2 separate regions of the Homo sapiens genome follow, and region 1 is linked to region 2. The links come from fine-mapping of genetic effects on plasma protein levels. A gene starts in region 2. The other region holds a variant in brackets. All regions are shown on one strand. Distances are between the middles of the regions.

Evidence for each region. PIP is the posterior inclusion probability: the model's chance that the variant is causal. The UK Biobank Pharma Proteomics Project read protein levels with antibody pairs (Olink). The fine-mapping took linkage between variants from a reference panel, not from the people measured, so its PIPs are less certain.
Region 1: its variant is fine-mapped to the plasma level of the LTBP2 protein (UK Biobank, PIP above 0.99).

Annotation. Positions count from the first base shown.
Region 1 is chr14:74,633,317-74,641,638 of GRCh38, forward strand. No RefSeq gene overlaps it. Among named protein-coding and RNA genes, the nearest start is that of LTBP2, 25 kb to the left of the region's middle. RefSeq lists a silencer at 1,730-2,024. The variant G/A (reference allele first, on the strand shown) is at 4,886.
Region 2 is chr14:74,610,826-74,619,100 of GRCh38, forward strand. It overlaps LTBP2 (latent transforming growth factor beta binding protein 2), which reads right to left and starts at 1,412. Exons shown (of 36, transcript NM_000428.3): 1 at 626-1,412. The coding sequence starts at 1,119. It overlaps LOC101928352 (a long non-coding RNA gene), which reads left to right and starts at 2,360. Exons shown (of 2, transcript XR_944029.4): 1 at 2,360-2,470; 2 at 2,742-3,223. RefSeq lists enhancers at 1,468-2,095, 6,704-7,903 and a silencer at 1,723-2,042.

The DNA of each region.
Region 1 (8,322 bases), 23 kb after region 2:
CTCAAAAAAAAAAAAAAAAAAAAAAAAAAGAACTCCAATTTATATACCAGCTGAGAGAGACAGGCTAGGTGGACTCCAGCCCTCCCTGCTTTGCAATCCTAGGGCCATGGGCTCAGCTCTCCCACAGCATTCAGTTCATGTAGTCAGCATGGTGGGTTTGGCTCTGTTTGCTCAACAAGACTGCAAACATGAACAGCTGTATCTCAGACACCTGACTCAGAACCTTACACACACTGGAGGTGCTTAGTTGCATGGAATTGTGATCTTACAGCTTGAGGCAGGTAACTCCAGTGGGAACAAAACTTAATGAGTATCAGGGGATAATTCCCAGAGAACCGATATAAACAGCTGCCCAACAGACCAGGTCTGGGACAAGGCAATTCCCACTGCATCCAAGTGACGGATAAGTGCAGGGGAGAAGGGGTCAGGGTTCATGGCAGGGCGTTTTAGGGAAAGTCTACTCTGCCCCCTGAAATCTCTCTCCCACCTCTTCACGAATACTTCTGATTTCTGAAACAAGATGCTAAGGCACTCGGTCAGCACTTAGAAATGCATCTGCCCAAGAGGAGATCAAAGAGAATGTTTTCATTTACTCTGAAGTATAAAGATTGGGTAAAGACCCAGCACGGTGGCTCACACCTGTAATCCCAGCACTTTGGGAGGCCAAGGCAGGTGGATCATGAAGTCAGGAGATCAAGACCATCCTGGCCAACATGGTGAAACCCATCTCTACTAAAAATACAAAAATCAGCTGGGCGTGGTGGCAGGCACCTGTAATCCCAGCTACTCGGGAGGCTGAGACAGGAGAATTGCCTGAACGCAGGAGTCAGAGGTTGCAGTGAGCTGAGATCGTGGCACTGCACTCCAGCCTGGCGACAGAGTGAGACTCCCTCCCGCCGCCCCCCCTCCCAAAAAAAAGATTGGGGATAGACTCTTTCCTAAGCGTTCTTGACAGGGGAAAAAGGTTAGGGGGCATAAAGGTTTTCAGGGTGTGGAAAGTAAAAATGGATTTTCAGGTAGAACATGAGAAAGAGAAAGGGCTGGAAAAGAAGGCTGGGATACAAGCGTATGGGATACACATCAGCTTTGGCTGCAAGTTACAGAAGCTGGCTCTGGCAAACATAAGTGGCGAAAGAGAATTTGTTGGAAAGATACATGGTACTGAAGGAGGCCTTCAACACTCAGGCCTGAGAAGGGACCAGGGCAGCTTTGGGGGTCTGGGTAGCGGGAACTCATGAGCTGTCTGGCTTTGGATGATTCTAAAGCAACTGCCTTCCATTATGGGTAATGACTCCAACTCAGATTCAAATTCCCCAGGAAAAAGTCTGACAGATCTTGGGTCTATGCTCACCCTTTGAGAATGGAGGGTTGGGAGAGTCCTGTGGCTGGCAGCCCCACCAGGAATGCATGGAATTGGGGAGTTTGAGTTTCCCAAAGGAAAGCTGAGTTTCTGTTACTCAAGGAAGGGAAGAAGTGCTGGGCATATGTGCACAGCAGATGTTCTCTACACATGGGATGTCAATTGAGAGAGGTGGGGGATGGATGGGGTGGGGGATGGGAATTTCCAGGACGCTGCAGAACCTGCCATAGGGGCCAAGGCTCCTGCCACAGCCCTGGATTGCATCTCCCTCTCCTCCTATAAAAGCAAGCTCAGGAAAAGAACATTGTTTCTGTTCTTGACAGCTCCATAGAATTGTCTCCTTAGCTTCCAGTCACGCTCAGCTCCTGCTAGAATAATTACCACCCACCTGTTCTCCATACAAGAATTCACAGCCAGTGGACACACATCTGGCCTGTAAAAGACATGCTTGGAAGTCTCCCAGGCTGCTTGGAACAGGCAGGAGACAACACAGGGTCAGCCACTAATTCAAAGGCAAGGAAACAGCTGGCCTGAGAGCTATGGTCACTGGAGCCTAAGTGGCAGCGAACTCCTCCCCTGCCAGGCAGCTCAATGGATGTGGGACAGGTGTGTCCTGAGACAAACAAACCCCCTGAGACTCAGAGGAGGTTTGAGTGCTGGGCCCTGTCCTCTTCTTCCAGCACATGGCTGTCTTCCCCACCCCCATCTGCTTCTCTAGTGGGTGGAGGGGGCTAATACCCTGCCTTTCTTGGAGTTCCTTTATTTTTCTTCCCATTACTGTTTACATCACTCCCTTCTAAACACCATGGAAATTAAGAAAAGGCCAGGTAAAGTTTTAATGGGGAGGGCCAGAAATATTTTGGTGGTGAAGGTAATTGCATCCAAGTTTTAAGGATGTGGATGCAGAATTGGAAGGGAGCAGGGCGCGGTGGCTCACGCCTGTAATCCCAACAATTTGGGAGGTCAAGGCAAGTGGATGTCTTGAGACCAGAAGTTCGAGACCAGCCTGGCCAACATGGTGAAACCCCATCTCTACTAAAAACAAAAATTAACCAGGCATGGTGGCACACACCCGTAATCCCAGCTACTCAGGAGGCTGAGGCAGGAGAATAGCATGAACCCATGAGGCAGAGGTTGCAGTGAGCCAAGATCGCACCACTGCACTCCAGCCTGGGCAACTGAGCGAGACTGTCTCAAAGAAAAAAAAAATGGAATTGGAAGGGGACTGACTGAGAGAGCCTCTAGGCCAGCGGTTTTCAACTTTTTTTTTTTTTTTTTTTTGAGCAAAACCTTTGTGCAGTGTTTCAGCATTCAACAAATATTTACTGAATGCCAACTCTGTCCCAGGTGCTGTGCTAGGGGATACAGCAGCATGCAATCCAGACCTGATTCCAGCCCTTGTGAGCATACAGTGTAGTGGAGGAGACAGACACTGGGAAAATAATTAGATAAGTAGATCAACAGTGAGCTGCAATTGAAGTAGAGCTAAGAAAGAGACGTATGCAGCTAGATGACCTAATACAGACTTGGGAGGGGATTTGGGGAAGGTATCCCCAAAGGAATGACATTGGAGCTGAGATCTGAAGGGTGCACAGAACTCAGAAAGGAGGTATGGAGGAGGACGGTCAGGAGGAGATGTCATAAGATCCTGGAGGTAGGAAGGCTCTTGTGCTGGAGGAACTCACAGGCAAGGCAAGCAGAGTAGTGTGGGATGCAGGGGCTAGGGATTCAGGGACCAGACTGCCAGGGGTTCAGGAGTCAGATCCAAGATGTGAACAGGAAACTGGGGAGCTCCTGTGGCTGGAAAGGGGCCCGCCCTTGATCTCTCCCCAAACACCCCAACACACATACTTCCCTTTGCCTTATAGCCTCTGAGGCATCTTGGAGGAACGTTGGGGCTTGTCCGAATACCGCTTGAAAACCACAAATCCAGCCCTATTGCCATTTTCAGATGTGAAGACTGAGAATCAACAATTGCCCCCTCCCAGTGCCCTCTCTGTTAACTCTGGGCAGCTAATCCAGCCTCCCTGGAGAGAGTGTGATGCGGTGACAGACTCTGAGGACACTGCAGACAGCTCAGTGTTTCAGGAATGATGGGGACAGCCTTGAGAGCCAGCCCAGGGCTCTGGCATGGGGAATGGACCCCAAAGATGAGAGGTTGGCCCAGTCTGGGGCACTCAGTCTTTTCTGCCTGTGCTGGGAGAGTCTCTGACCCTCTTAGCCCATCCCCATCATTCATCCAGAGGCGCAGGCAGGCCGCCTGCCAGGATAGCAGATCCCACTCAGCTCTGGCCTCAACATTCCTCTCCCCGCCGGGGGGAAAGGTCAAGTGTAGGATATTTTCCCAAGCCCTGGAGAACAGCAGCACCTCCTGATATCTACAGCTACTACCCAGCTTGAAGGGCAACTACCAGGGCAGACAGGCAGGACGGGAGAGCAGTCAGCTGGCCCTCTAAGCAGGGCTGCAGGGGGAAGGGACTGGGGAGGCAGGGCCTGAAATATATCAACAACTTCAGCCCCAAGAAGTAGAGTAGAGAGTGGGTGATGGGAAAAGGGCTTGCATGGCAGGGGTCTGAGGCTGAGGCTCCGTCTGCCTCAGGAAGGCTAAAACGTTCCTGCTTCAACCCAGCTGGTCCTCATTTAACTAACTCCAGGGTCTGGCCTCTCTGGAGACCCCCTGCTGGCCCGTCTGCAGCTCCTGGAGCAGAAGCCAAAAGCAGCCACCAGCTTAGAGACAGCAGCTGAACCCAGAGCCCCCCAAGCAGGAGACAGGCAGTGCAGGCATTGCAGGCCCCTTTGCAACCCTGCAAGGAGTCAAAAGCCAAGTAGGTGGGGCTGGGGGGAAGGCTTCAGAGATAAAGAAGGCAGAGGCAATTGTCTCTAAGCCAGATCAGGAGCAGCTATGGAGAGAAAAATCTCTTGGAGCCTGGAAGGTGGTTTCATCAGTCAAGGCTGTCCTAAGGCAAACTATGCAACAGTAGCCTCCCTTCTTCCCCCGTCTCCCTTCTGCCCCTCATCCAGCACACTGCTCTGTGAGCACTGGGCACTTGCCATCCTGCCATCCTCCCCCAGGGGAAGGCAGGTACAGAGGAACAAGGGAGCAGGTGCCAGAAGGCCTGAATTCAAATCTAGCTGCTCCCTATTCTAGCCGTGTGACCTTCGGCAAAGATCTGAACCTCTGAGACTCTGCTCCTGCTTCTGTAAAAATGGGATGGATAAGAGCTATGTCATAGGACTGTAGAAATGATTGAATGAGAAAATGAAGGTAAAGATCTTAGGTCTTATTGAGTTTGCCATGGATACTCCTCATGGGACAAGAGAGAGAGAAGGGGGAAGTGGGGAAGTACTGGGGACTGTTGAATGATCCAAATGGGATGCCTGATGAATGGGGCAGCTCCCAAATGTTTCAACCCTGTTTCCAAGGTAGAGGCTGGGCCAGAGAGTGGGTGGTGAGGGCCTGAGGTAGGGAAAGTTATTCTGTATTGAAAAGAAAACAGAGAGAGGAAGTCAGATCTCACGACGTGC[G/A]TCAGCCAAGAGCCTGGGCAGACAGTGTCTCCTCCAGAGGAAGGGCTGGTACTCCGGCACTCTGTTGCCCTCTGGCAGCCGCTAAGCTCCTGTTTTCCTCATTAAGCTGTCCGCAACCTGGCCCCCTTTACACTGCTGATAAGGGCCAGAAACAATTCAGAATCCCCAACAGATGGCATCTGTGGTTTTCAATGTCACCTCCCGATGGAATCAACAAGGTGGGGCTGAACTCAGGTGGACTGCAGGGAGTCAGGGCAGAAAAGCACCAACTCTGAGGGGTGGAGTCCAGGATTCGGGAACCTCACTGTGTGCCCAGCGATGTTAGGCCTCGTGGACACATAAAATGGTAAAAGCTAGTATTTGTTGGGCACACACTATTTGCCAAGCTTTGGTGCTAAGCACATAAGTTTATTATCTCATTTAATCCCCATAACAACCCTACGAAGTTGATAGCATTATTATTCCTATTTTATAGGCAGAGGAACTGAGGCAGAGTGCCTCAGGGGCTTATAATTTGTTGGGGAGTCAAGAACACAGGTTAATACCCCCAAGGGAGAAGAGAACAAAATCTGAGCTGTTTCTCACCATCCCAAGTGGCCCTGTCCTCAGTTTTGCATCACTGTCTGCCTCAGTTTCCCCAGATTTCCAGCTACCACCATGGTGGCTGAGCTCAAAAGGCAGCCTCCAATCACTGTTCTAGGGATGGACATGCTCATTTTCCCAAAGTTCAGCCAAGGCAGAATTTGTCAAAATAAGTTTATCTAGGAAACGTAGAAGAGGATGGAACAAAATAATATAAAAAGCAAATGCTCTGGGAAGAGAGCAGCTTATGAGGCAGTTTTCATGTCCCAAGATGAGGAAAATAATAATAGCTATTGGTGTGCCAAGTATCAGACACTGTGCTATGCTCTTGATTATGTTATTTTGTTTAATCCTCAAGGGGACTGAAGTATTACACAAGCATTATTGTCCTCATTTCACAAATAAGGGAACAGATGTTCAGAGAGGTTAAGCAACTTGTCCAGGTCACATAGCTTGTAAGGAATAGAGAGCTAGGAGTCAAGCTTGCCTTTGCTTTTAACAATTTAAATAAAGGAGACAGGCATGGTGAGTACAACCAGCTGACAACCAGACAGGCCTCTTGCTTCCAGGCCCCATTTAGGTCTAATGGAGAGATTTGACTGAACAACCTAGATCCTAAATGGCAGGTTTTCAGGATAGCTCTGCTGATCCTCCATCTGACAGATTTTCAGATCTTGCTCAGGAAATAATCAGAACACTTTTCCTACTGGACAAGTCTGGAAAAAACCTTGGCAAATCTGTACCCTCCAGTTCTCCTAGTCCCCATTTACACAGCCCAAAACAAAACAAACAAACAAAACCCAAAACACCCCAATAAATTAAAACCCTGTATTTGCACTTGCACTTCATTTCAAATGAAGTACACGCCTCATGGCCAGGCACAGTGGCTCAGGCCTATAATCCCAGCACTTTGGGAGGCTGAGGTGGGTGGATCACGAGGTCAGGAGTCCAAGACCAGCCTGGCCAAGATGGTGAAACCCCGTCTCTACTAAAAATACAAAAAAATGTAGCCGGGTGTGGTGGTGGGCACTTGTAATCCCAGCTACCCGGGAGGCTGAGGCAGAGAACTGCTTGAACCCAGGAGGCGGAGGTTGCAGTGAGCTGAGATTGCACCACTAAATTCCAGCCTGGGCAACAAAGTGAGACTTTGTCTCAAAAAACAAACAAAAAACCAAAACAAAACAACAACAACAACAAACAAACAGAAAAAATACCAAATTACCCTCATAACATGCTACAATTTCCACACTATTTCACTGGTTAACTGATGGTTCTTCAAGCCCAGAGATAATGTGAGTAAGCCCGTAACCCAGTGCCTGGCAAGAGATGCGTTGTTGCTGCAATTATCATTAAGAGACCTCTTCCTGTGTTCACATCAGCAAGTCATCCCTGATACCCTTGGAATAAAGCAGTATGAAATTAAGTACTAATTGAATGGTTGATATCAATAGCTATTGATAAGTAATATTTATTAAGCAGCTACTGCATGCCAGATTTTAGTCTATATAGCTTTACACGCATTATCTCTTTTAATCTTTATAACAACCCCATGAGATAGGAATTATTGTTACTCCCTCTGTTTTAAAGACAATGAAACTAAGGCCTGGAAGTACTAAATAATTTGCTTATGGTCACACAACACCCAGATGGCGGGAGTGGGATTTGAACCCAGACAGCTAAGTTCAGAACCTGCACCAGTAACCTCTTTCCTCTCCTGCCTCCCGTGATGGGTTTGACAATAGGATACAGAGGGTCAAAGAAAGAAGATGTCCTTGTGTGCTGGGGGAGTTGGGGGAAGCTTCCTGGAGGGAATGGGCTCTACTGGACTTGAAAGAAGGACAAGAGAAGTGAAGCAAAACAGACATCAATTTTAGGCTGGAAGATGATCCTGAAGTCTCATGGGACCCAAAAATGGGACATCAGGAGAGCTCTCATCTTTGGAACATGAGGGATTGCTTATCCTCTGAAGCAGTGTCATTTGGCCAACTTGTCAGTCCAAGGAAGGACTCAGAGCTTATCAGGAACCTGTGGGGTCTGCACTGGGTCTGTAGCATCAAAATAGAGGAGGAGGACAGCAACAGATCTCCTGGGAGGCCCTGGGGATAGGGCCAGGATTAGATCAACTCCCTGCCATCTCCATACTGATCACAGGATTTGCTTAGAGGAAGTTGTGTTTGGTTTGCTGTGACCATGGCAGGGTTGCCCCAGCAGGTATGGATGCAGAGGGGCTCAAGGACCCACAAGTCTGTAGGAGTTCACAGAAATCTTAGAGAGAAGCTTCAACTTCACTTAAGCCACAAAAATATTGGGGGCTGGGGAAGAATTAAATTCCAGGCTAGGTAGGCTCCCAGCTGACACCATGTTAGAGTCTTCCCGCCCACCACCCGCCAAAGGCATGTCTGGGAGGGCCAAATGAGACATACCTGGCACGTGGCAAGTGCCCTTAAAGGTTCAGCAACTGGCTGGGCGTGGTGGCTCACACCTGTAATCCCAGCACTTTGGGAGGCTGAGGCAGGCACATCACCTGAGGTTACCTGAGTTTGAGACCAGCCTGGCCAACATAATGAAACCCCGTCTTTACTAAAAATACAAAATTTAGCTGGGTGTGGTGGTGCATGCCTGTAATACCAGCTGCTTGGTGGGAGGCTGAGGTGGGAAAATCACTTGAATTCGGGAGGTAGAGGTTGCAGTGAACCGAGATTGCACCACTGCACTCCAGCCTGGGCGACAGAGCAAGACTCTGCCAAAAAAAAAAAAAAAAAAAAAAAAAAAGATTCAGCAACCTTCTCCAGGCCCCATCTTTCAGAGCTCACTTGCTTGGCTGTGGATTACAAATCTGTCAACCAGACTCCCAG
Region 2 (8,275 bases):
GCGCCCACTGTGTCGCAGCCTCATCAGGACACGCTTCCCGCCCAAAGTACCCAGAGCTCACGCCCACGCCCGCATCCAGCCCTCAGCGTGCGCAGGCCGACCCACGCCCCACGACACTTGTCCCGACGCACCAGCTTCGCTGCCGGCTCCCCTCCTGGAGACGCATCTACCTTCTCTCCATGGGGCCCCCGACACCTCCGCCAACCCGCGCTCTGAGCCAGCTCAACCTCCCCTGGGCGTCAAGAGCCTGGAGCGCCCACCCTCCTGCCCTCTCCCCGCTGCCTCTCAGATCCCGGCAGCGCTGCAAGAGTCTACAAGAGCTCGTTAGTTGCAGGCAGGAGGAACGCGGGCGAGTGGAGAGGCGCCTTGCGAAAGGATTTAACGTCGGGGCTCCGGGAGAGTTGGTAAGAAAGGATGAGGATGATGATCTATCTGCCTTCAACTCTTCGAAAGCGGATCAAATCTTCCAATCCCGATTTTGGAACCTCGGGGCTGTTTCCCGAAGTACTAAAGACAGAGGGACGAGGGTATGAGAGCGGCGCCCTCTCCTCTCGCCTGCACGCCCCTCCACAAATGAGCCCTGGCTCCCCTCTGTACCCTCCAAACTTCCCTCTCCCATGCTCACCCCGTGAGCCGCCCTCGCGGCGGGGTTGGGGGCGCAGCCCCAGACCGCTGTGGGGTCCCCAGGCGTGGGAGAGCCGGCGCGGCCCGGGTCCGGGGTGCTGGTTGCTGCTGGCCCAGGGGAGTGCTTCTCCGGGTCTGCGCAGGTGGCTGGACACGCCGCGACTGCTGCGCGCGGGACGGCCTCCTGGCCTCCGCCTCGGTGGGCCTCCTGGGGCTCCCCCAGCCCGGCTGGGCCCGCTCCACGGGCTGCAAGCCCGCGACAGGCGCGTCCTGCTCCCGGAACAGACTGTACACCTTGGCTGCAGCCGCTGCCGGGTAGCTGCCCCCAGGGCGCCGCAGTCGATTCGCGTCTCCACCAGCCGGCTCGTATCTCCCTACGGGGTCCCTTTGGGCATGACCCGCGCCCACGAAGAGAGCCAGGGTGAGCGGCAGGAAGCCTCTCCAGGGGTTCCGCAGGGCGCGCCCCGGGCTGCGGGCTTTGGTCCGCGGCCTCATGGCGCGGGGCGGCTGGAGAGTGGTGCGCGCGGGCACCGCGAAGAGCTTTGTGGTCGGCACGCTGGACGCCCGCGGGCTGTTCTCCCGGCCCCGCCCGGCGGCCAGCTTCTCTGAGTCTAGGGGGCCCTGAAGCGGCCGACTGGGGGCCCGGCTCTCGGCGGAACGAGGGCTGCGCGCCCCGAGCCTCGAGTCCGCGCTCCTACTCCAGCTGGGCTCGCACGGCTGCTGCACCTTCGCGCCTCCTCCCTGTGCCTGCAGCCGTCTGAAGGGGACCCGGACGGTTTTATTTTTGGAAACCTCCCCCGGCTTTTTCGTCTCTTTTATCCACACCAGGCCCCCTCCTCGGAGGGACAGCTCAGCCCCCTCATTACCGGAGAGGGAGCGAGGAATTCCAGCAACACCCACTTTGGCACCGGGAAGCCAGCGGGCGGCGAGCGGGCGGCGAGGGGGATTAACCCGTGCGGAGCAGGGGGCGGCGCGGGGCTGACCCAGGCGCTGGTCGGGCAGATGGCGCCTGCCACGACCGGGACACTGGGCCGCCTTTCTCCTGCTCTGGGCAAGTTCGAACTGCAGACCTGCCCCGAATCGTTCTCCCGCCCCTCGCCTCAGGGACCGTCTTTGGATCGGGGGACCCAGGCTGCAGCCTTGCAGGTCTGAAGGAAGCCGGGAGGGGCGCCGAGGCCCGCGTAGGGGAACAGGGCCGCCGCCCCCTCCGCTTGCGCCCTGGCCGCTGGGGGCGCCCTCCGCAGGGCCGGCCGGAGCGGGGGTGGCGCGGGGCGGGGCGCGGCGCGCGGAGCGCAGGGAGGTCCCGGGCGCGCCCCCTGGCGGAGCTGGCGGCCCTGGCGCTCCGTGGCTGCAATGCCCTGGCGCCGCCGCCTTCGCTCTGGATCTCAATCCCCTTCCACTGGCGTGAGGGTCACGCCTGAGCCTGGCGCGGTGATGGCTGCCGGTAGAAGAGGGGTCCTCTTTTTCTTTTTCTTTTTCTTTTCTTTCTTTCTTTCTTTCTTTTTTTTGAGACGGAGTTTCGCTCTTGTTGCCCAGGCTGGAGTGCAATGGTGCGATCTCAGCTCCCCGCAACCTCCGCCTCCCGGGTTCAAGCGATTCCCCTGCCTCAGCCTCCCTAGTAGCTGGGATTACAGGCATGCGCCACCAAGTCTGACTAATTTTGTATATTATTTTATTTTTTAGTACAGACGGGGTTTCTCCATGTTGGTCAGGCTGGTCTCGAACTCCCAACCTCAGGTGATCCGCCCGCCTCGGCCTCCCAAAGTGCTGGGATTAAAGGCGTGAGCCACCACGCCCGGCCAAGGGGTCCTCTTTTTCACCGAGGCAAAGACACGGAGCCTCTTGAGTAAGTCACTCAAGGAGATAGCGCATGTGAAAGAGGGGAGTGGAATCTAGGCCTCCCGCCTCTGGCTGAATCCATTCCCGGGATCCCACCCAGCCCTTCACTCTCTCGGGAATTTCCCAGAGGGGGATTCGGTGACCCCGATTGACCCAGTGTGTGCATTCACATCTTGTGTTAGCAGGGAGGCGGGCAGGGGTGTGGGAATGCTGACTGCCGCTGTCTGCGTGTCCCCAGTAATCAGCACACCATTCTCACCCATGCTCCCTCCCTACAGCCTAAAGGCTTGGATCAACAGGGCTGCCCCTGGCACATTTGTACAGCCTATTTCCCAGAGAGGCAGAGTGAAGGAGCTGGCATGTGGGCACCAGTTCACAACCTCCCACACCACACAAAAGACAAGCCCAGGTAATATCTACTGTTGAAATAAAGCCTCGACCCCTGGCCTTGGCCTACAAACCCTAGCTGGCTGCCCCCGCTCTGATTTCATCTGGCCTCTTGCTCTCCCTTACCCACCACACTGTGCTGCCTTGGCCCTCTCTCTGCTCCTTGAACAAGCCAAGTGAATGCCCCCTTCCCTCTACTGGAAGGTTCCTCTCCAGGATGTTAGAGGGTAGTTCCTCATCACTGCTCCTCTCAGATTAAATATCAGCTCCTGGAGTAGCCATCCCTGACCTCCAATCTAGAGCAGCCCTCCCTCACCCCAGTCATGACTCTAACACACCACCCTGTTTCATCTTCATAAAACAGTTGACATCATCTTGTTATTGATTTGTTTGCTCGTGTAACTGAATTTTTTAATGGGCTGAACCTAAAGAGGGACTATCCAGAAACTGCTCCACTACTACCTTCAACCATATTATGGTAAATTTCCCTTTCCCACCCTTAATGACATCTCAGGCAGAGTCCTTGGCTTGAGAGGTCATCCCTACCAGACACGAGAACTATTCTATTAATATAATTAAGACCCATTTTCAGACACAAAAAGTCTGCTCCTGTCCAGATCAAAATCTCATCCAAGTTAATCAATATCACATCCCATTTAATAGTCCTCCTCTCCCCTGTCCCTTTGCTAGAGATCCTGCAGTGGTGAGAGTGGGGTGTGGTCTGTTTTCCTGACCTCCCTTTTCTGCTGTGGCTCCTCTTTGTCAAGGCTGGGAGAGAGGTGTTAGAGGAAAAGTAGCAAAGTCTTATGTGACAGGTACCCTTGGTTGGCAGGTGCCAAGCGCTGGCTTTTTCATGGGCACATATGTGGGTTTTTGGGAGGTTCTCTACAGGACCTCCACCCTGAGTTGCCATAGCAAATTACTCTCTGGCCAACCTCTCGGAGACCCCTGCATCCTCTGTCTCTCATAGGACTGTCCCACCTATGCCAGGCAAAACAATGGTGGGTTGGCCGCTCCTCACCCTGCCCACTTCTCACCTTGCCACACAGGCCACTCCAGCGAGGCTCCACGATCAGAATTCTCCAGACAGGAAGTGCACACAAGTCTCTTCATTTATGTACGTCCTCAATTCCTAAAGACATATGTTGGGTTCTCCCATGAACTGTCTTGCTGTAGTTTAATGCACCGAGGTGCCTGTAACATCCAGCAACATAGTCAGCATCAGTGGGGGGACAGTTATAGGGACAGAGCCTCCTCTTCTTGCAGATGACTGGTTCTCTCTGGGAGCTCCCTTCATTTGGTTTGAGTTGGGGAGTTCCCTCAGGGGAAATCTCAGCCCTGCCCACAAATGCAGCAGTGTTATGCTTCAGTGACTTTCTTCAATCCCTTTCATTTGTAGACTGGAATTGAGGGATGTAGTTTGATTGCTGTTGAACCTGTTCTGCCTTTAGTAAGGTGTCTAGTACTTCTCTTCAGAATGCAAGAATATTTAGCCCTCATTGTTCTATCTTTGTGGCTTCAGCAGATATTCCAAGAGCAGAGGAAAAGTCCTATTCAACAACCTATAAAATCATTTCTTGTCTGACTTCCCAAACCACAATGACAGCTCTAAAGCAACAGATATCTTGTCTGCGTTGCTCACCACTGTTTCTGCAGAACCTAGAACAGCCAAGAAGTATGTGTGAAATGGATAGCTAACTGAATGAAGGACACAGTAATCCCATCAAGTGGGGAGGGCTGGTATCATTAGACCCATTTTAAGAGAGAGGAACTGAGTTCTGGGTGGCAGCTCCTGATCCAGGTTCATGTGCTTGCTGCCTTTGGGGCTGGCTCTAAAGATCTCCTTGAACCCTACCCCTTGCATTTGACCATGAATGCCCCTTAGTTCCCAGAATGCTGCGTTCTGTTCCTGGGATGCTGCTCCTTCACAGCTGTGGAAGCCCCAGGTCCACACTTACCTCTCCTTGCCCAGATATCCACCCACCTCTGTAGTTCTGGGCTCCCTTCCTCTCCCCGGAACCTACCCACTTCCTTCAGAAGCTCCCCTCTAGATCCCTCAAGACCCACCTCAGATCCCCGTGGGCCTCCAAAAGCCAGAAACCTTGGCATCATCTTCGTCCCTGAGCTATTTTTTCCTCCTGTGTGTCCAAGTCATTATTACTGCTCCGTCTCCTCCGTCTGCATTTCTGGAAGTCTGCCGCCCATTCATCCCTCACCCTTCGCCTCCGCCAAAACCCTCACGCAGACCAACTTTCCCTCACCATCGGGCGCCCCTTCCACTCCTCAGTGAGTACAAGTGGTCCTTGGACGTTCCCACCCTGTTCGCCTGGGGACCATAACCCAGTTCATCTACTCCAAAGACTGGCATCTTCTACCCCATCCCGGCGCCACACTCTGTCCTGCCACCTACTTACTGCCCATATCTCCCTTACCCTCTAACTGCTGGGACTGATTGCAGCTCTTCAGAATCTCCAATCCCACAAACACTTGAGTTTTGCTTTTTTTTTTTAACCTGCCAAAATCGATAGAGCCTACTTTAGTCCAAACGCCATACTAAGCATGTTACATCAATTGGCTGATTTAACCAACCAAAGGAGGCATTATGATTTCCACGCATACAAAGGAGGAAACTGAGGTTGGCAATGGCTACTGGCTTGCCCAAGATGGCACAGCTGATAAATAGCAGAGGCAGGATTCAAACCTGGATCATTTTCCACCTGAGCCCAAGCTTTTAAGGTTACACCGCCTTGCCTCCACCCCGGGCTTGTAAGCCTGGAGCCCTCTTCACAATTGAATCATGACCTTTCCAACCACCCCACCACTATCACCACCAAAGGAGCTCTAGGGCATATCCCCAAATGCCCTCTTCCCTGCCTGCCAGCCCACTGTTCATGTACCTGGAGCTCATGTACCTGGAGATGTGGAGTTATCAGAACTTTCTGCCACCCTTAATCCTCTTGGCCCAGTGAAAGAAGGGAAGCTGTTTCAGCATGGCCGCTGACTCACCGTGTGTCACTTCCCCACCCCCTGATTAAAGCCTTCTCCCTCATTAGATCGCTGCTAAGCCTACTCACCCATCTCTTGGGTCTGGAGAGGAAAATCATCTCTGGAAAACCCGGCAGAGAGAGTCTAAAGGGTTGATAAAGAGATTCCAGCAGGGAAAGGTTTGCCCAGACACATGCCCCATGCAAGGGACAGCAGTCTCCTGGACTCCCAGGGCAAACTCACTGCTTTTCCATGTCTCACTGGAATAATGTTGGCAGCCAGAGGTCTACCAGAACCTGAGCTAATTTGGTAAATAAGGACCAAAAACAAGGGCCACATTTCGGCCCCCTTTGCTGAGACCCAGACTCCTGAAAGAATTCCAGGGATTTTTCTTGCTTGGAAGTAACTGGACCTCCAGCCCTGAATTCCTCTCCCCAGGAGAGCTTGTTCCCCTGCTCAGAACAAATAACACATTTCCTGGTTAATCAGAGGGCAGAATCGCTGAAGGAAAGTTTGACTGGGCCCCCAGCCTTCCAGACGGGAGCCGCTCATGGGCTTGGATGTTCTGCTCCAGACACTGGGCAGCTGGGACCCCAGCACTGCGCAGCCTCAGCCTCCAGTTTGGAAGGTGCAGGCCGTACAGAGAGGTGCCGACTCCCTCCTGTGTGAGGTTGTTAAGGCCCGCAAAGGCTGCCAGAACCATTCCACCTTAGGTGCCATGACCTGGCGTCCCCTCAAGAATTCACAACCACCCTGCCCTGGTCTGCCGGTGCCTGTCTCCTCCAAGTGGGTATGACATGCTGGCTGGTGGTGATAGCCATGGTATGGATGTTCCTGCAAAGGTAAGGTGAGCTGGCCTGTATTTCAGAGTGTGCTGGAAAGGGCCCTCCCACAAACATGTGGTGAACATTTACGTCTTCTGTGAGCGGAGCACAGTTCTGAGCTCATTTCCGTCTTCTGTGAATGCAGCACAGTTCTGAGCTTCATTTGGCTTCTACTTTCTTATCTGAAAGTTGAGATAATGATGTTCTTTTTGCCATTTTTCTCTTCAGGACAAACTAGCTAGCCAGCCCTGTTTACCCTGTCATGGGGCTAGGGGCAGGTGTCAATTACTACTCCTCCATTTACCAACTGATATTTCATTTATTGTTTGTTTGTTTGTTTGAGACAGGGTCTCACTCTGTCACCCAGGCTGGAGTGCAGTGGCACAATCTCGGCTCACTGCAGCATCCACCTCCTGGGTTCAAGCAATCCTCCAGCTTCAGCCCCCCAAGTAGCTGGGACTGTAGGTGCACGCCACCAAGCCTGGCTAATTTGTATTTTTTGTAGAGACGGGGTTTTGCCATTTTGCCCAGGCTGGTCTTGAACCCCTGGACTCAAGTGATCCTCCCGTCTCGGCCTCCTAAAGTGTTGGGATTATAGGTGTGAGCCACCACATCCAGCCTTGGTATTTCTTGAGCACTCAGAAGGTACCAGGCACTGTGCCAAGTCATCTTATAGTCACTTCCTTGTTTAATGAGAAGCGCTATTGATGAAGGAAGTGCTATTATTTCCCCACATAGCAGATGAGGAAATGAAGGCTCGGGGAAGTAAATGACTCATCCACAGTCACAAGCCAGTAGGTGGCTGCGCTGGGATTCACTCCTGGTTTGTCTGGTCCCAGATGCTAAACCAATGCCAGCTTCCAGGGGAAGGGAGACCACCGACAGCTGCATTTTTCTCAGAGCTGGAAGCATGCACAGCTGTTTGTGGTGTGGTGGGGGTGCTAATGGCTGCATGGGACTGTGGTCACAGGTCAGCCCCCACCAAGCATCCCCCATTCTCCTCAGGCCTGTTTACCAGCTAGGGGTCCGCTCTGAGTCAGGGCGGTGAATCTGATTCGCACCCACAGAGAAGAAGGAAGGAAGTCACAGCCACACTCACCCCACCTCCATCAAGTAGTCTGCAGTTGCTGAATAGAGCTCATCTCAACTCGTAGCTTTTCTCTTTGGGAAAGAGAAATGACATACATACAATGTCTATTTAGCTCTGTGTGGTAGAGGTGTTGCCATTCCCATTTCACAAGCCCAGAGGGGTAGTCGCTTGCTCAAGGCCACACAGCTGGGAGTTGAGCCAGGATTCAACTAAAAAGTCTGAACAACTCCAAAGTCCATGCTGTTTTCCCTGCAGCACACTGCACTCACACCAGGGTGTCCTGCAATGATGGGAAATGGGCAGCTCTTTCAAATCACTTAGTTCACTTCGCTTCCCTTCATTTCCAGTCTCTGGTGCATGGGTGGGCTGATCTGAAAGCTCCGTGCCATTCACTATAAGCTGAGATGTCATTTCCTATTTACCTGCATAAATTCCTTCAGTCCCTGGCTGGGGGTGGAGGGGTGGAGGAATCTTCTAAACCCCCGGGGGAGCCTGAAGCATAACTTCTCCTCAAGCACAGTCTCTG